Regions from separate parts of the Homo sapiens genome. Here region 1 is linked to region 2. The links come from fine-mapping of genetic effects on gene expression. A gene starts in region 2. The other region holds a variant in brackets. All regions are shown on one strand. Distances are from middle to middle.

The links.
Region 1: its variant is fine-mapped to the expression of SEMA6D in fibroblasts (GTEx, PIP above 0.99).

What each region holds. Positions count from the first base shown.
Region 1 is chr15:47,456,476-47,466,683 of GRCh38, reverse strand. It overlaps a transcript of SEMA6D not described here. Among named protein-coding and RNA genes, the nearest start is that of SEMA6D, 260 kb to the left of the region's middle. The variant C/T (reference allele first, on the strand shown) is at 4,854.
Region 2 is chr15:47,712,029-47,722,236 of GRCh38, reverse strand. It overlaps SEMA6D (semaphorin 6D), which reads right to left and starts at 4,732. Exons shown (of 19, transcript NM_001358351.3): 1 at 4,545-4,732. RefSeq lists a silencer at 4,611-4,905.

The DNA of each region.
Region 1 (10,208 bases), 260 kb after region 2:
CTTCTCGGTATATATTCAAAGGAAATGAAATTATTAATGATACATTAAAGAGATATGTGCACTCCCACATTCTTGTAGCATTATTCACAATAGCCAAGATATGAAAACAACATAAGTGTTCACCAGGAGATGACTGGATAAAGAAAATTTGATAAATATTTACAATGGAATATATTACTCAGCCCTTAACAAAAGGAAAATTAGCCATTTGTGTCAACATGAATGAACTTTGAGGACATTATGCTAAGTGAAACAAGCCAAACACAGAAAGACAAATACTGCATGATCTCACCTATAGGTAGAAACTAAAGAAGCCTAACCTATGGAAACAGAGTAGAAAAGTGGGTGCTACAGGCTAGAGGGTGGGAGTAATGGAGGGATTTTTGTCAAAGGGTACAAAATTTCAGTTATAAAATGAACTAAGTTCTGAACATCCAATATACAACATGGAAACTACAGTTAATAATAATGTATTGCATCCTTGTCATTTGCATATACAGTACATCTGAAGTGTGCTTACCACACACAGAAAAAAATGGTAACTATGTGAGGTGATGAACATCTTAATTTGCTTGATTGTAATTATTTCACAATATATATGTACATCAAATCATTTTGCATACCTTGAATACATACAATTTTTATTTGTCAATTATACCACCTATAAAGCTGGGAGAAAATAAAAACACATTATTTTCTTTATCTTTTCTATGAAAAGTTACAAATATGAACATTTTGATATCAGAAAAGCATGTCAAGTTCCCTGGAGGAAACCAATAGGTAATATTATTGCAGAATTGGCAAGACCCTTTACTGGTGAATTAGTCCATTTTCGCATTGCTATAAAGAACTACATGAGACTGGGTAATTTAGAATGAAAAGAGGTTTAACTGACTCAGGTCTGCAGTCTATACAGGAAGCATGGCTGGGGAGGCCTTAGGAAGCTTACAATCATGGTAGAAGGCAAAGAGAAAGGAGGCACATCTTACATGGCAGGAGAAGGAGGAAGAGAGAGAAGGAGGAGGTGCTATGCACTTGTAAACAACCAGATCTCATGAAAACTCACTATCATGACACCAGCAAGGAAAAAGTCCGCCCCCACAATCCAATCCCTTCCCACCAGGCCCCTCCTCCAACACGGGGGATTACAATTGGACTTGAGATTTGGGTGGGGACACAAATCCAAACCATATCAACTGCGTTTAGAACATAAAGTCAGAAACCTTTCCCCTTTATAAGTTATGCAATAATTTAGCCACCTAGCAATGTTGCAAAGCTAAGTCTAGGCAATAAGAATTTTAACTGGGATGCGGACAACTATTTGCCCACTTCTTCTTGTACAAACATCTATATTTAGGGGCTTATTATTAAGAACCAATTAATAGTGAAAGAGGTTAGAGTTAGAGGCCAAATAGAAATGATTGAAATTTTATGAGGAATGTTTCAATATTTCTTACACATTACAAATCCAGATACACATTGGTCAAAATGCATCTACTGACTACCTGCTGTGTTCAAAGCACTGTGAGTACAAGACAGAAGACGATCTTGTGTTTATCGAGTACCTACTATGTTCTAGGTGCTGTGCAAGGCACATTTAGTTGTTGTGTATCTGTGAGTGGTGAGGGGAGTCAGGGAGGGCCAGGAGGTGTAACAGGAGAGAAACAGAGTATTCTAGCTTGAGGCTCACTTTAATTTATCACTGGGATTCATACATATATGGCAAACTTGTGAAATTACCTGATTATTTGCAGAAGAAACTTAAGAGTCTCTTAATAGAGTAAATTCAGGCAAACCCCCACTTGGTCCATGACAGTGCCTTTTATCAGTGGGGTGGAGCAATCCATGGGACTGTCACTTTGATTTGTGTTCTGACCTAACTTTGTATGGACTCATATATTAACATATGGTACTCATCCATTAAGAGGTATTTAAATTAAAAGGTTAGAGAGAGAGAGTCTTTCCATTTTGACAAGGGTGCAGGGTGGTTTGTGCACATGGAGGACTATAAATAATTCAATAAAATTTTAGCTCCTTGAGGGCTTGACTAAATCAGTCACACCACAGTGGTGGCAGGGAATTAGCTACCATGCCTGCATACTGGCACCTCCTCAAACCAACCATCTTATAAGAGCAAAAGCCAGGCCCAGATGTGGAATACACTGTTGGCTGATCTGGGAGCATCAGGAGTCCTTGGCATGGACTGGACACTGGTGGCAGTGGTTCGGCATGAGGCAGAGACAATGGGTATCACCAAAGGCACCTGAAGCAGGATGGGTGCCTTTTCTTAACGAGCACATATGAGACACCTCTATGGTGGGGGTGCTGCAGGGGCTGAATTTATTACAATAGCATCCAGAGAAAGACTTTTTACCCTACATGATCCTGCAACACATACTTAACATGGAAAATATATTTTACTTTATTCCTCCTAACTGCCTGACAATAAAAGTTTATTAACCTTATCTTACTGATGAGGGATTGTAGCTAAAAAAAAGTTAAAATCTCTTCTTAAGGTCACTACATGGGTTGAATGGCAGCCCCCCAAAAGATATGTCCAGATCATAACCCCTGAAACCTGTGAATATTACCTTATATAGCAAAATATGTGAATGAGTAAATTTAAAAAGGGGATGAGCCCATTCTGCATTATCCAGGTGGGCCCTAAAGGCAATCATGTGTATGTATCCTTATGAGAGAGAGGCAGAGGGAGTCTGGGGGACAGATAAACGAAAGAGAAGACATACAGGAGAGGAGGTGGCAAGGTGACCACAGAGGTGAAGATTGGAGTAACGCAGCCACAAGCCAAAGTATGACTGGAGACACCAGAAGCTGGAAGAGGCAAGGAATGGGTTCTCCCTAAAGCCTTTAGAAGGAGTGCAGCTCTGTGGACACCTTGATTTCAGACTTCTGGCCTCCAGAACTGGGAGAGAATAAAGTTATGTTTTAAACCACCAACTATCTGACAACTGGTCACAGCAGCCACAGGAAACTAATACAGTCGCACAGTAAACTACAAAAGACATGTTTCAGATCTAAGTTTGTCCAACTTTAAGGTGTGTTCCCTTTGGGCCCCACGGGGATTCCCCCGACATACTATCAACACACTCTACAACTCTTAGGCCTACCATGACGCACACATGTGCTTCAGCTGCCACCACCTTTTCTTTGGAAATACATTGCAAAGGGTTGAGAAACTTTGGCGTTTGAGCCTATTTTCCTTTGTAAATGCAAATGTACTGCATGTGTTAAGATTTAAAGGAGACATATATGCAGTCAGGGCTATACGAATTGAGTCAAGAGAACTTGTCATGGGCAGAGATGATCAGCAAAGGATTTATGGAGAAGAAAGTTTTGAATTGTGAAGAAAAGGGTGCATGTATGTGGATAACTGTGAAGGACCAGCTTGAACATTCTAGGGCCGCTGAAGGCTTGAAAAATATTTCTAGGGGAAAATTACAAGCTTCATGCAGAGTTCACTGTGGAACCCAGCTTGCAATTGAAAATATTGCACCAAAATGAAAAACTAGGTGGATTTAGATCCTGGTTGTTTTTGTTACTGTTATCATGGATTGCTGCTATTCCTTCAGGAAACTGAGGTAGTCTTATTTACTTACTGAAGATCCTTTTCTTCATTTTTTTTAAAAAGTCCTTTCCATATCCAAGTTCATCATTGAATTGGTCTTGTAGCTACGTCTCTTTATGGTCAGGCATTTTCTCTCTGTCCATGTGCCTCTTTCAATGACATCTGTTTTGCTAAGAGATCTAATGAATTATAAGCCAGACTAGGACAAACAGAGCCATAAAGGCTGGGTTCTTGCAGAACAGGTTTTAGCTTTATTTCAGCCCTTCTCCCCTCACCCAAGGTGAATTAAGTAATCTTTATGAGATAAAATTACCTGCACTCTTGCCTAACCTTAATAATGAAAAAGAGAAGGCCTTTTATCTATTCATTGTGAACAGAGTAATCACAATTCGCTATGGCTCACAGAAACAGGAAAAAAACAATAACAACAAACCACCACAACTAATGTGTTTTTGTTTCTATCTGAAAATCCGAAGAACCTAGTAGTTTTAACTCTAGTTCATTACAGTCAACGATTTAATCTCTGATGGCAGGGAAACAAGAAATACGTTTATGTCCAGGGTAGCAACAGCATCACTCCAGATCAATATTCAAAAGGGCTGTAGGAAGGAGGTTCAGTTTCCTAAAAAAAAACCTATATAGTTCCCGTCTGAGAAGAGAGAGGCCGAGATGGGTCATTTGGGATACATGAAGCATTTGCCTTCCAGAATTGCTGGTGAGGCAACATATGTAGTGCTTGCCTGCTATGTAAGGCACTGTGCTGGGACCTGTGGAAAGCACAAAAGGTTAAAAGCATCATCCCTGCATTAAAAATCTTGTTGGTGAAACGAGTCATAATGACTTAAATTTTAAATAATAGCCCCAAACAATCAAAACAAAAAGAACCCCAAGTAAGAGTTCAAGACAACAAAAATAGCAAAAGGCAGGCCACATTTAATTACCAATAATTGCTACAGGATGTCAGAAAAATGGGAAGAGTATATCACACTGGCGTGGTCTGGAAAAACTCCATGGTAGTACCAAGATTTGAAATGAATCACGCTAACAGGATGTAAAAGGAGAAAAACATCAGTATCTAGAATCACCAAATAGTAACTTTATGAAATATTCAGTATTTTCTGGTAATACACCAGGCCTATCTTACTCATGTGGCAGGATCAAACCTTGGTATGCATTGACTTGGACCTGGGCACACTGGGAGGTAACATTGTTCTTTCATCCCAGTATAAATATGAATATACAAGCAGAAACATATACATTCTTCACA[C/T]ATTTTACAAATTTGCCCTTCAAGTTCTAATCTTATGAATTTATCCCTTTGGGACTATCTGTCGGTTTGTATTGCTCTTAGCTCATCCCTCTTAAATAAATTAACATATGAGGACTAGATTTTCCATTCCAAATAGAATGACTCATTGAAGAGCAGAAAGCAATTAAATTTCCAAGATGAAGCTTTTCCCGAACATCCTATACACCTCACTTTACCAATTTAAAAAATTGCTATGGGCATTATTATTATTAATATTATTTTTAATGACGGAAATACTGTTCTATGCTATGTGTAATAACCATGAAATTTAACTCTGATGGACAAACCTCAGATTCTTGGTCTACTAGATTCAACTTAATCATTTGTCCAACAAATATTACAGATGACTCCTTTATGCTAGGTGATGTTTCCAGTGCTTCAGATATAATAGTGGGGGAGAAAGCACAAGGTCTGTGTATTTATGCAGCATACATTCAAGAGTGTGTGTGTGGCAGTGGCTGTGGGGAGACAATGAAGAAGTAGTCTAATGAATAAAGGCAATTTCAGAGTGCAAGGTTTCTGCATGTGGAATAATGACAGTGTGATGAGATGATGAGGTGCAGGTGGGGATGCCATTATTTTAGGCAATGTGGTCACCAAAGGCTTCTCTGAGAAAGTCATGTTTGAAGTAAGAATCAAATAAAGGCAGTGATGCGAAGACCAAGCAGAGAGTGGTCTGGGCTGAGACAAGAGCAAGTACAAACGCATTGGCATAGAAATGAGCTTGCTCAAGGAGCAAAAAGAAGGTCAGGAGGGCTGGGCAGAGTGAGAGAGAGGAAGTGGCTGGAGGAAGCAGGAAGAGGAAGTAGGCAGGAGTCACACCATCTGGGGACTTGTGAGCCACAGACAGGACCCAGCATGCCTGTTTAGGGCAAATACCAACAGTAATTTCACAAGATCAAGGCATAGTTAGTTGAGTTAATTTCCGGGTCATTAAATCTGCTGTTTTATGTTAAAGTGCTTATTGGTAAGAAACATCTCAGTTACTTATAAGCAACGTTTACCAAATCTATAACATTTACCAAAACTGGGATTTGTTTGTTCACCCAGTTTGATGATTCTATTATAGTTTAAATAAAAATTAGGAAATTTTTGCAATATGTTTAAATACTCCTCATTCCCCTTTCACAATATTATCTGCACAAAAGGTTGGAAGACAAAGAAAAACATTCACAATTACATTAACACCTAACACTAATGAATCACTGATTTCCAGCTGTCTTTCTTCCTTCTTATACACTGTCCTCAAGCACACAGCATCATGATGTAGTTTTTAATCATAGCAGATATATGATTTCCCTTCAGTGCTTTCAAAGCACATTGAGAGTCGGGTACTCATCATTTTGTAAGATTTGGTCATCAGCAAGATGATTTCTCGGACTACTCTAAATAAGCCTGGCTAACCCAACTTCATTGATCACTGCTTGCAATGATTTGCCCCTTCTTGTTGGCTTAAATCTTCACTTCTTATCAAAATTGGCTTTTCAGGGTAAAGAAGACTTGAGACAAAAAGTAATTTCTGATAAGCAGTAATGAGACTGACTCCTTCTTACTGAGCTCCCTGGGCATAAAAATTAGATTCTAAATAATTTCTAAATAATTTCTGAGAATTCACAGGAGGAGAATTCCTCGCCATAGCTGAGTGTCAGAATGTTGCAAATGAAGAGACACAGTGGTGGGATGGCTAATTAGATGACTTTAACCTCACCTAGCTATGCCTTAATAAAACCTAGAAAATAGGCATTTTTTTTTAAGTTTGTATGTAAGATTTTGAAACTCCCTGACTTGGGGATTTGAATACGGGGATCTAAAGAGCTTAAAAGGTCAATGGAGGAGTTAGTGGAATTGATTTTCAAGAATGGATTTTATTTAATAAATTCATGTGTTATTTAGGAAATTGAAGTAGAAGAACCAAATACAGTATATTTTAAACACTCTGCACTACTCCACATTTTTCCCCAGATAGTTATCTTTGTTATCACCCAGAGATGAAATCTTTTTAAGTAGAATTTAATAGACTCTCCACCAGAAATTCTTAAGAATTTAATATTGGTTTAAGTGCAAAGCTGCAGGGGAAAGAGGGGAGAAAACCTATTGTTTGTTTTGAGGTTATTATAAAAGTTTTTAATTTTAAATATTTCCACTTATGGATATTGTAAACACCTCAAATTTAGTGTAGTCAATACAGAATTTTTGATTTCCACTGTTACTTCCCTTCATCTGTTTCTCCGTGGTCTGTCTTGTTTAGTAAGTCACCACCACCCAGTGCAAAACCAAGCTAGGTTTTTCTTGATTCTCCTCTTTCTCTCAGATGATCCTGCATTCAATAATCAAGCCATCTGCAAGTCAGTCTACAAAATATGTCACATGGCTGTAATCAATGTATTGGTGGGCTGTGTTTTCATCTGCAGGTTCAACTGGGAAGAATCTGATGCCCAGATCATTCAGGCAGTTGACAGGATTCATTTCCTGACAGCAATTTGAATGAGGGGCCTGGCTTTCTACAGGCTGTTGTCTGAAGGCTGCTCTGAGGTCTTAGAGGCCACCAGAAGTGGCTAGAAGCTGTCTACACACCTTGCCACATGGATTTCTCCAACATGGTCACTCAATTCATCAAGCCTACAAGAAGAATCTCTGGCTTCAGTCTGCTGAGATAGAGTTTCACATAATGCAACATAATGATGGGGGCTGTATCCTATCACCTTTGCTATATAACAAAACCTAATCACAAGAATGACATCTCATTACCTTTACCATAGGTAATGGGTTAGAAGCAAGTCACAGGTCCCATTCACGCTCAAGGGTAGAAGATTACACAAAGCCATGAATACTAGGAGGTGGAAATCATTGGGGCTTATCTTAGTGTTTGTCTGCAACATTTATACTGATATTCTTTATTAATAGTTTATTTATTTATTTATTTTTGGTTTTGACCTCATAGCTTTATTTCTTTTGCTTACTTTGATTTCAGATGTTTTTGTCCCTTTAGGTTTTTTAGATGGAAGCATATGCCATTGATTTGAGACCATTCTTCTTTCCTAAAAAAAGGTGTTTAGTACTATCAGTCACTTTCCAATCACTGTGATAACAGCATCCTACACATTTTTATTTTTCATGCTTTTACTTTAATTCATTTCAAAATACATTCTGATTTCCCTTTTGATTTCTTCTTTGACATACAGGTTAATTAGAAGTGTGTTATTTCATTTCCTAATACATGGGTATTTTGCAGATATATTTCTACTATTAATTCCTAATTTAATTCCATTGTGGCTAGGGAATATATTTTGCATATTTTGAATTCTTTTTAAATTAATAAGACTTCTTTTATGGTCAGAATATTGTCTATCTTGGTAAATGTTCCATGGGCCTTTGAAAATAATGTGTATTTTTGTTATTGGAGAAAGTCTTCCATAATGTCAATTAGGTTAAATTAGTTGATAACATTGTTTAAGTCTTTTATATTCTTATTTAGTATAAATTTCCTATTTATTGAAATAAATTGTTAAAATATTCAACTATGATTCTCATACTACCGCATATATGGTGAAAACCTCCAATACATCAGTATAATTTCTACTTTAAATAACCAATGGTATTTTAAAGAGATTTTTAAGAGTATTTTTATATATGCTCACAATTTTAACATTCTCAGTGTTATTTATTACTTTGTATAGATCTAGATTTCAGCTCTTGTTTGTCTGAAACATTTCGTATTTTTATTTTGGTTTTGAGAGATATTTTGCTGAGTATAAATTCTTGGTTGAAAATTTTATTCTTTCAGTACTTTAAGAGGTTTCTTCTCTGTCTTCTGGCTTGCATTGTTTTCAATGTCTGCAGCCATTTTTATGTTCTCTTTTTGTCTGTATTCATTGCGACTTTTTTTTTCTTTTGGCTACTTTTAAGGTTTTCTGTTTATCACTGGTTTTCAGCAATTTGATGACAATACATTTTGGTGTAATTTTCTTCCTGTGCTTGTGCTTGGCATTTATTGAGTTTCTTGGATCTTTGGGTCTATATTTTTCATCAGAGTTGTAAATTTTCACCCATTATTTCCTCAAATATTTTTTCCATGTCTCTTACCTTTTGAGTACTCTAATTACAAATATATTAGCCTGCTTGAAAGTATCCTGTGTGAGAAATTTGGTTAGTTTCTAAAGGAATATCTTCAAATTGACTAACCTTTTCTTATGTAGTGTCTAATCTTCGGATAGTCTCTTCCTACATATTTTTAAATCTTGGGCAGTTATATTTTATCTCTACAAGTTTGAACTAGGTCTTTTTAATTATCCTCCATATCTGTGCTTAGCATGCTCATGCTTTCTTTTACTTTCTTGAACATATAGAATATACTTATAATACTGCTTAATATCCTTGTGTGCTGATACTTTCATCTGTGTTTTTTTTCTGAATCTTCTTATATTGATTGATGTTATTTCTCCTAATAAAACGTGTATTTTTTCTTCTTTGTGTGTATAAGTAAGTCTGTATTGGATGCTTGACATTTGAATTTTATATTTTTGAATGCTGGATATTTTTGTATTCTTTAAAGTAGGTTTGAGATTTGTTCTGAAACCCAAATAAATTATTTGGTAAGCTTTTCAAGCCTTGCTTATAATCTTTGTTATAGAAGACCAGAGCAGTCTTTAGGAATAATTTTTTATTGCTACTAAGGCAATACAGTTCCAAGTATATTGCCAGTGCCCTGTATAATGCAAAGTTTTTCCACTCTGGCTGGAAGGATGAAAATTCTTACCAGCCTTATGTGATCTCTTGAGACTGTTTCACCCACTTCTTTATTGGTTCTTTCTCAAGATGTGGGTGGTTTCCTCACACCCTCATACTGATGAGAATGCAGAGAAGACTTGGGAACACTCATTATGGAGACCTCAAAAGCGTTCTCTCTGTGCAGCTCTTTCTTTTCAGTACTCTGTCTTACAAAGTCTAGGGGCTGTGGCCTCCCTGAATTCTCAAATCCATCTGCTAACTACAGGGGGACTACCGCCATCTGTTTCAGATCCTCCTTCCTGGAAACTCTTGAGCAGTAAACTGAGACAATCTCAGTGATTACCTCATTTGTTTCCCTTCTATCAGATATTACTATTTGCACTGCCTATTGCGTATCCTAAAACTGTTGTTTTGGAAATATTATTATTTTTTTCTTTACTTGTTTAAGGTGAGTGCACAAATGTAGTCTCTGGTCCTTCACTGCTAAAAGTAGAAGTAATCTTTTCATTTTGTACCCTATTATATGTACTTCTTTATTATAATGTTGAAAGAAATTCTAGCGGCAGCTCTAATAATTTGAAGCAGTGT
Region 2 (10,208 bases):
TGGCTCCTTCTAATTCTGTGATTCTGGTGGTTTGATCTTACAGGCCTCAAGAATCTTTCCTGTGGTGGTATAAGGTTGGGGCAAGCCTCCTTTTAAATGGAACACACCATTGCAAGGTGGCAAGGACTTTCAGTAGCTGTGACCCCAGAACTGGATGAGGGGCCTGGGACAGGTTGCCAAACAATGGAAACTTCCCGTTCTGGGTGTTAACTTTAGTTACCACAGGCAGACAATACTGCCAGTGGTATAGAAGAAAAAATTGCTGTAGCCAGCTGTGCTGTTCACAGCCGGATGGATTCCATGTAGCTCCAAATGGTGATAGAGCCAGCAGCCTGTTGTAGCCAAGGACAGGATGATGGATGATCTACATACTGTGTCCAAGCAGAGAGAATGGCAGAAGTTCACTTCAGGGTTGTTAAAATGCTAATCTGGGTGAGTTAACAAAAGCTTAATAGAAAAGGAAAGTTTGAGAAATAAGTACACCTCATGTGGTATCTGTGTGGACCACTGATTTGATCGCCCTTGGTTACATAAATGGTTGTTTTTCAAAGTAAGAACGTCTAGTAGTTTTCCTGTTGGGAGAAATGCAAGCAGCTTCAATTATCAGTGGCACTGCCAGTGTTGTCAGGTGTGAGGAGGAAAACTCCACCTGACAATAGCCACCTCAACTAGAAAGTGTTATGGTATGTTTAAAATAGTTATGTGATTTTTATTCTCTCCGTGTGTCATGGGAATAAATCAGAACACTTTTTTTTTCCCCAATTGGAAGTTGGCAGCTGTTCACAAAATCAGCGGCAACCCAAGACACTAGCTTTGGTAGATATTAACACTAAGTCTCCATTCACATGAGCCACAGAAAGTGAGATCTCTCACTCTAAGGACAGATTCAATGCGTGAATTACACTTAACAGTACATTGAATCATTCACTAGTGTTAAAGGCAGGTAGGCTGCACCACTGCAAATATCTGGTATGGATAATCTTGCTTTAAAATCTCTAGAATAAAATAATACACTTCTAAAGAAAGAAGCATATCTACATTTCTTGTCAAAAGGTCTGTTTTCCCATCCTTTATTTCCTTCTATTTTTGCTCTATTGAAAATACAGAGAAACATATCTGGCTCACCTGGTGTTGGAACACTGGCTAGCACAGCTCCTTGCAAATGATAAATATTCAGTAAATACTGCCTAGTTGGCATACCCCAACTGCTTCTTGCTTCCTCTAGAAAGGCATCTAGAATATGCAGGCTTAAAGTCTATCAATTAAAATAAAAGACAATATTTTATCACGCAATATAACAAGGAAAGAGTTCACCTCCTACGGTTACACTACTAATGGTTAGGCATTCAGCCAGGCTCTTAACTCTGCATAAAATGCATCAAAAGGGTGAAAAATGACCCTATTTCAGATGCATTTTTCACTCTTTGTATCTTAGTGAAACTCACATGCAAGAACAATGACTAAGCTAATTACCAAGGTTTATTATGATGGAGCAGCAAGAAGTGAAGAACTTCTCCAGTTTCAATAAGTCTTTAGCAATTATGGCCATCTTTGTGAATCAAGGCTCTGATTCCTGTTTACTTGCTTGTGGCCTTTCAAGCGACAGAAACCACGACATTGATGTAGGGGCCTGCTTACCCCAGTCACAGTTACTGGACAGAGCCTTTCTGTGCATGCAGCAAGGAACTGAAGTCTTCTGGATTTCTAAGTTGTCCTCACTCTAAGGACTAACGGATTTACATCACAGCCATCTTTCAAATCCATCAACCCATCAAACCAGGGGAGACATGACCAGATGGTGCTATTAGAGGGCACCAAAAGAAAAAAAGAGAGAAAGAAGAGGAAGACGGCAAAATGCCCACAAATCTAAATCAAACTCAAGTTAACCAGCTGTTGGTGATGAAGAAGTCACAACATTTCTGGCATACTCTCCTGAGTCACAGAAATGTTCCAAAAAAAAAAAAAAAAAAAAAAAGAAAGGTTATTGATATAGCATCCCTACGAGGAATAAGGCCAGGTAGGAATATTCTGTAGGATGCAGTAAGAAATAGTTGCTAGTTGTTAATCTAACAAAATGTGCCAATGAAAGAAAACAGTCTGCTCAACAACACATTTTGGAAGCCTTAGGGTTATCTATTTAACTGTCTTTCTGGAAGTACATTCTAAGAGACCTAAACCAAACAAAGCACAGACAGTAACTATAAAAAACAAAACTCAGCTATGGCTGAACTATGGTTTATTTATCTCTAGATGTTTAGGTTCATGGTAATATAGACCCAAATCTCAGAGCTTATCTGGCATTTTCTATTTATCTAAGCCAGAGTAAATGTTTGTGTAATATCTGCCAGCTTGAAAGAATATGCCTGTCACTCACTACATTAAACATGACTACACACAACTTAATTTCCTGAGTTAGACACCTAAGAGAGTAAGGGGATTTATTTTTTAACAGCAAGAGTAAACCAGTATCAAAAGCTACTGTTTTTAAGCCACCAAAGGAGAGTAAAATCCTTCCCTTGAGCGGTCTGAGATGAGATTTCTTTATACTACAAGGAAGAAACCTTGAAAATTTTCTTCAAACAAGTATTTTTCCTATTCTAAGGGACAGAGATCAAACCAGTTTAGAAAAATGTTAGACCTTTCCCAGGGACTTCAGCTTTGGAATAAACAAAATAATCCACTTAATGGCCCCAAATATCAAGTAGGGGGAAGGGCAACCTTAAAAAGCACCCATAATTTTTATTACAGACTTAAAATTCTTACCGCCAGAAGTTTTGGGGAAAAATCGTCCTACTCATTGCCCTTTCACCCCAAGTAACAGGAAACACTACAGTTATTTTTAAAGGAAAGCCCCCGCTGTAGTGGCAGACATAAGGTCCAATGACTGTTGACGAAGTCTATATATCTATAGTAACGATGTGCTGCGCCTTCCCTGTGAGATCATCCAGCTGACGGCGCTGAGGGCTCGGGATGCTGGAACATCAGTTACCGAATGGTCACCCCAGAACAGGGAGTACTGCCCTAAGTTCCTCAAACGCTGCGATTCATACCGGGACTTCAATCCCCCTCCACACCCCCACCCCCGCCAGCTCCCTGACATTTCGCCTTTTAACAAGTTCAGGATTTAAACAATCACCTGACAGCAATGGTCCCAAGAGTGGATGGAGCACAAATTTTTCAAACCCAATTCTCGTGCACACTTCCAAGTCCTTTATGACCTTTCATTTCAATCCAAGAATTACACATGACAGAAGAAGCTTCAAGCCCTCCTAAATTACCCAAGGAAGGAGGCTACTGTATCAGTTTCTGCAGACCAGGGACAAACACCGCCGCTGTCAAGACGGGAAATAAAAGTTTCCCTACCTTCCTCCTCACCATGCCCCTGCCAGCGGCTGCCGGCGCGAGCGGCGGCTCCCTCCCGGCTGCAGAACGCCTCTCGTTGCCGGAGAAGGGGCTCAGCAAAATTGACTCTTCCTTATTTGTTTCCATCCATAATTGATGGGGAGATGAGAACGTAACACATCTCAGCACCGAGCTCTTGTCGCCTGGCGGAGACCCTGTCCAAGACGCTTCCGTAAAGCATTTCCAGTCGGGGAACAAAGCACGGAAAGTTGCTGGGTAGAGCGGCCGGGAGGAGACACCGGGAGCCGGGTGGGCGGTGGGGTGGCCGGTGGGCTGCTCCGGGCCCGGGAGTCCGCCCGCAGCGCGCTCTGCCAGTAAGGGGAGAGGGACGGTGGGAAGCGGCCGCCCTCCGGGCCTGGGCCGGGGATGGGGATGGCCAAGTCACCCGAGCTCCCGCCCCTCGCCGGCAGGCACTACCCGGGGGCCGTGCAATCCGGGCGCTCACTGACAGGTATCCTACGCCCGCGAGGGGCTGCTCCGGCCTCAACTGCGGCGCTGCGCCCCTTCTCCAGGACGCAGGCTAATGCTCGCCCGCCCGCTCCTAGCCGGGCGCAGAGCTGCCAGACCCCGGGCGTCCCAGCGTCCGCTCTGGGGCCAACGGGCGGGAGGGGGCGGCTAAGCCCGCAGGCGGCTCCTTCGGCCTTGGCTCAGCTCTCCCCGGCTGGCTCCTGGAGACGCTGTGCCCGGCAGAGAAGCAACCCCTGCTAACCCCAGCTATGTGCGGGGGACGCCGAGCTGGCTCTGCCTGGCAAGAAACTTTTACTTGATGCCCCCTCCGCTTTTTTTCCAAGGGGGTGCACAGTGGAGGAGGGCCTCCAAGTCCACTTGCCCCTCCCCCTAAGCCGCCAGCTTTGCCAGTTTTGACGCGTCCGCCAAACCTCTCTAGCCCTTTGCGCGTCCCTTGCACGGCAGGCAGAGAGAGCAGCTTGGAAAATAAATCAACTGTCCAGTGGCAACACACACACACACACACACACACACACACACACACACACACACACAGCGATTCGGGATCTCAGGTTCCGACCCCCACCGCGCGCACACACACACACACACACACACACACAGCGATTCGGGATCTCAGGTTCCGACCCCCACCGGGCGCCACAAGAGCATTAGCAAATTGTTGAAAACGGTCTTACCTCATTGGGGGGAGGCTGGTAAGAAAAAAGAAAAAGAAAAAAAAAAGCTTGCCACGCGCAAGGAAGAAAGAAAATAAAGAAAAATATTGTAAAAATAGATATCCCTCTGTCTCCTTAGGTCTTGGCTTCCTTGATAGAATCCTGAAACTCGCCACCACCCCTTGCAGCAGCAGCAGCAGCAGCGGGACAGAGCAGGAGCAAAACAAACCGATGCACGGCAAATGGTGTAATTCGATCCATCTCCAAGTCAATCCATCAGGCGAGCCGGAGCCTGGCTCCCTCCACGCACTCGGCAGCTCCCGGCGCGGGTCCCACCCCCGGGCACGGACGGCAGGAGGCGCGGCCGGCCGGGCGCGCTCGCCCTCGCGGGTGAACCGTGGCCAGCGCCGCCTGGAGGCCCCCACCCTGGCGCCGCGGCCCTGCTGACCCCTCGGTGGCCTCCGCGTCCCTCCTCTCCGGCGCTCTGCTGCGCACCCTCCCTCTCCCCACCTCTGAGTAGCTGCTCCTTCTAGCAACTCCCAGTGCCTCAGTCATCCAGCTCGCAGTGGGTGCTGCAGCCTGCGAAGCAACCTTTTCGATTCCCTCCCTCTTTCCCTCTCGCTCACTTCTTTCAGAGCTTTCCTCCAGAACCCAGAGGACAAATCACTGCAGCCCAGGAGAGCTGCGGGCGCAGTTGTTCCGTGAAGTTCTGCCTTAGTTTTCCAGTGTAAGATTTATTTTTTAAGCACATCTTTACAAACCCGCCCCCACATTACCCCCCCGCCCCCCATTTCTCTTTATAACCACTAAGCAAAACAGCTGGGAAGAAAGCAATCAAACATTGCTTTATCTTTATAAAATACAGAAATTGCCTACTAAAAATCCCATTTCTACTTTGAATGAAAGCCATTCTGTACAGTATAATTTTGCAGGCTAATGACCCGGTTTTACAGGCAAGTGTTTCATGTAATATGTTGTGGGAGAAATGAAAATGTCCTTGAAGTGACATCATTTAAAATTGACTGTCACAAATGAAAGGAAAAAAAAAGTCACATATTCCAAAACAAGAGGATTTTAATTCAAACTTCATTTCCAAGAACGGGCTGTGTTTTATTAATTTCCAGTTGAATTATGGATCACTGAGGGCTCTAAATGGCTAGAATGAACCATGATGCCCCTGTTTAAAGAAAAAGAAGAGAGCTTTTTCCGCCAAACTTAATTTTCATTTGAGTATGGTTAATTACCGTGAAAGAGAGAAGAGAGGGGCGCAGAAAGGACTTCCTTTCCTCAATGGTTCCTGCTTTCTCCCAAACACAGTTACATGTTTACATTTAGGAAAAATACCCTGGTCCTCGTTGTTTCTGAAACTTCCAAGGACAGCCTTGAAAAGGAACTCAAAAAAGACACCCCAAGCAACTGCTGCAGGACTCATCCGGAGAACTATTTCCTCCCTAGTTAACACTGTGTAACCCAAGGAAAGAAGGGGAGAGAAGGATGAGGAGTCTTTTAAAATATAGACTCTTTCCTGCTGTTCTTCCAATTAGAAGAAAAGAGTAGGGGGCGGAAAGAACAGCTTTGGCAACACAGCTCTGTGATTTTTTTCCTGTTGTTATTAGGTCTTTTGTTGGCCGGCTAGTTGGTGTTTTCTGGTTGTGCTGGGCTCTGACATCATTGCAAGTTACTTGGCAGTCAGGGCCCTTCCCCAGCCAACTTCTGACCCAGAAAGCTGTGCCTGTTTCCTGGCGTCCAGTTATTCTGTATTTTCTCCATCAAGGGAGCAAGCCCCCGTTGCAGGCAGAGGATACTGTGCATTGCATAAAGATTGCAAGGGGGTGGCCATTGGCTTGATGAGGAGTCAAATCGCCACCCACCTGGAGACAGAAAGCTCTTGAGTTGTCCTGCATCTGCAGTAGCAGCAAAGAGGGAAAAAAAATTAAATTCTGGAGATTCCTAAATTCCTTGCTAAAATTCCACAATCGTCAGCTTTCCAGAGTGCCACCTGAAGAGTGCAATTTGCCCTAGACTGAGTTCCTAAATCCAGGAAAAAATAAACTTTTAGATTGCAGAAGGATATGCTGGTAGGTCGTTTCAAGCCATGGATTAGCCGTGTTTTCAGTCTACATTATCAGTGAAGACTTCGGAGTCGATCCCTATATTTGGCTTGCTGGGGATGAGAGGTAGGAAGTAGGCTCTTCACTGTGGCATGGTACGAATGGTATCCTTTACCTTTTGGTCAAGACCAAAATATTACTTTTAAGCATTTATCATTTCCCTGGTTCCAAGAATCTTGATAGGAAAACAACGCTCCTTTTATTTGGATTTTAGTGGAAAGAAGTCTAAGGAAAACTGCTAACTCTTTATGCAGCTACCATTGTTGTGGTTTATTAGCATTTGGTCTCATCAGTTGATTTTACACACTTTTAACCTTTTAACTTTGCTACTTCTCCAGTCTAACTCCCCCCTCTCCCTACCTTATGCTTTAGATGCTAGCATTACCCAGAAACTTGCGGTTCACCACTGTGCCACACTGTTTCATGGTGTCTCTGCTTTCTGGGTACTCCATCCCCATATTGGTATGTAGTTTAATTTCTGCTTTTCCTGACTTCTAGCCAACAATTTGTTTAAATGTCAAAACTTGCCTCATCCCACTAGCCCCTACCATGGGCATAAGTGCTTTTCTTCTGTGCTCCCCTAACCAGTTCACTTACGTAATTAAGTAAATTGAAGGCAAATTACCGATTTAGCATGTCTTCCCCACTCGACACTCCTTAACAGCAGCAATCTCTATTTACCTAGACAGTCCCAGTGCCCACCACAGTGCCTGGCATTTAATGGACGCCCAATAAATACTTGTTAAACAGATCTAACAATGGAACCTACGACTTTCTCACACTCCCTTATGTGCTAAACCAGAGAATACAGTCAGCTCTAGATTGGATCCTTCTCCATTTATTCATCCTGCGTCCCCAGGACTCAGCAAAGTACTGGCATGAGAATGTTTGTTAAATGAGTAAAAGAAGGAAGGTATGGATGAATGGAGATAATTGAGTGTTTTCACCAGAAGAAATTGTAAAGGGCTCAATGCTTTACATGGTTAGTGATTATGCTTAAACATTATCTACATACATTTCCCATCAGTGGAAAGTAGTCATTTTGTTTACAGTCCAGTTTGAAGCATAACGGTCATCTGAAAATTACAGAAAATCTGTGTGTGTAATTGTTAATAAAAGTTCATCAGTCATCAGAAAGTACAACTTCTTAACTGTTATTAAACAAAACATCAGTACTTAATATGCACCCAAACTCTGTTCTAAGCATTTTACAAATATTAACTTGCAACAATGCTACAAGGTAAGTACTATTATTATTATTATCATTTTTATAGATGAGAAAACTGAAGCTTAGAGAGTTTAAGTGAATTGCCTAATGTCACAGAGTAGTAAGCAAGTAGGAGTTGAATTCTACCCCTTACTTAGTTGTAATAGTAGTTAATAATAGTGAGGTCATAGTTAATAGCAATAGATGATAATGAAGTCTTTGGAATATTAGTCTGGATTGAAACCCAGGCTCCTCCTCTCACTAGACTTGTGACTTGGGATAATTTATTTAGCCACACATGCTTCAGTCTTCTCATCTGGAAAACAGGGATGATGATAATAATATTCAAATTGATTTTATAAAAACAGAATGTGGTAATGCATGTAAAGTGTTTAGCATCTGACCTGGAACAAAGCAAGCACTGAATAAATATTAAACAATGCTTTTATAGATTCTCCAAAGGCAGCAGAATCTGGGAATCCTGCAGAATTGAATTTGAAACTTAATCCAACCTCACATTAAATGTGAGATTAAGGGCAAAAGTCCATGCTACACAATAGGTTTGCAATAAATGTTTGTTCCATTCCATCTCCTTCATTTTCTTATCTATGTGTATATGTCTATTAATTCTGATACACACACCACTCACTATCCAGTTGATATGAAATAACATTTTGTATGAATTTTAATGAATAATAAAATTTAGGACGTAGAATTTCATGTTTCAAAATAAAAAGAGGTATTGAAATTTCAAAGGTTGCTGCAGCTTCTGTGATTACTTTGATTTGGAATGCACATATAGTATTCCTTGCGTTCGCACATTATAGAAAGTGCTTTTGTGGCAAGGGATTGCTTTCAAAACTAATCTAAGCTCTCCATGACATGATAAATCATTAATAATATAGACCCAAATCTCGGCATCTGCATAGGCACAGCTGGCCTCCTTGTGTCAACAGTCTGCATATGAAAGTGACTCTGCCAAGATATTTCACTTTAATGAAAAATATTTATCACAGTAAATCTTAAGCCTCAAGATTTTACTGACATAATTCATTTCTATTATTATGTAGTATGATAGTATACCACCACAGCAGTGCTTATGTTTAGAATGATAAAAATGTGCTTTTTAAAGTCATTTTGATTATTCTACCTCAGCATGAATAATTTTTGCTCTACACTCTGAGGAAAGGGAATACACCATGCATTTATGGAACTAATAAATCAGTTACTTATCTAATTTTGCTAATGACTCTGTAGGTGTCACTGTGTGGAAGGACACTGAGTGCCCAAGCGAAATAAGAATAAGGCTTTAAAAAAATATTGTTTTTCCATAAGAAAGATGAACAGCAAACAGCCTTTAATAACACTAGCTCTTTTGCAAACAGACAAGAGATATGAAGACTATCATTTTATCAAAGATATTTGAACAAACAGAAGCAAAACGAACTTTTTGAAGGGTGGGTCATACAAAAAGCTGGCAACTCAGTCAGTCACTAAATTGTGCTTATCTGTACTTTGAAAAGGAATACTTAGGATACTGGAATGCCAGCTTATATCCCAACAAAAAGAAAGCTGAGACTCCAAATTCCTGACAGACTTCTCTCTACAAATTTACAGTAACCAAGCCTCTGACCTTGAAGAATTGGAGCTGAATAATACCTATTAAATGTTAGACTGTCTTAACCAAGGAGAAAGATAATGAAACTAATTAAAAGTGGTAGAAATTAAAAGTTTATTTACTTCTAAAAATATATACTTAAAACTTGGTTTTTAAAAACAAACCTCCCCACCTAATATTATTATTATTTGCTTCTGCCAACCTCAAAATTCAAACTGACAAAGGGAGAAGGAACTGACTGGATACCTGTTTCATCCCAGATCCTGGCCAGATACAATAGTATTAATTCTCACCACAGCTCTTTGAGACAGACATCATTTTATGAACAAAGAAACCTAGGCTTGGTTAAAATAACTATCTTATTAGGGTTTTCTGTCCTAGTAGGTGGTAGCCTAGATTCTAATCCCGGTTTGTTTGCCCCTCAATCCTTATTTTTTTTCTAGTATACCATTCTATGAAAAATGATATAAGCACAAGTTTTAAAAACTATGTCTTGGATAACACAGGAAATAAATGTAAAAACCCACAATTAGATATTCAAAGCTAAACTACAAGTAAATGTGTGCTTCAATGTCAAAATTTTTAATAATTTTTGCTTGTCACATAAAATCCAGTGTAAGGACATCTGCAATAGGATTCATAGCATAGTTTAAACCTCTGTATATTATATACATTCTATTATTCATATAACTGCTCTGAATCACTTGTAAAGAATAATAAGACCTATTTCACACCATGCAGATTTATAT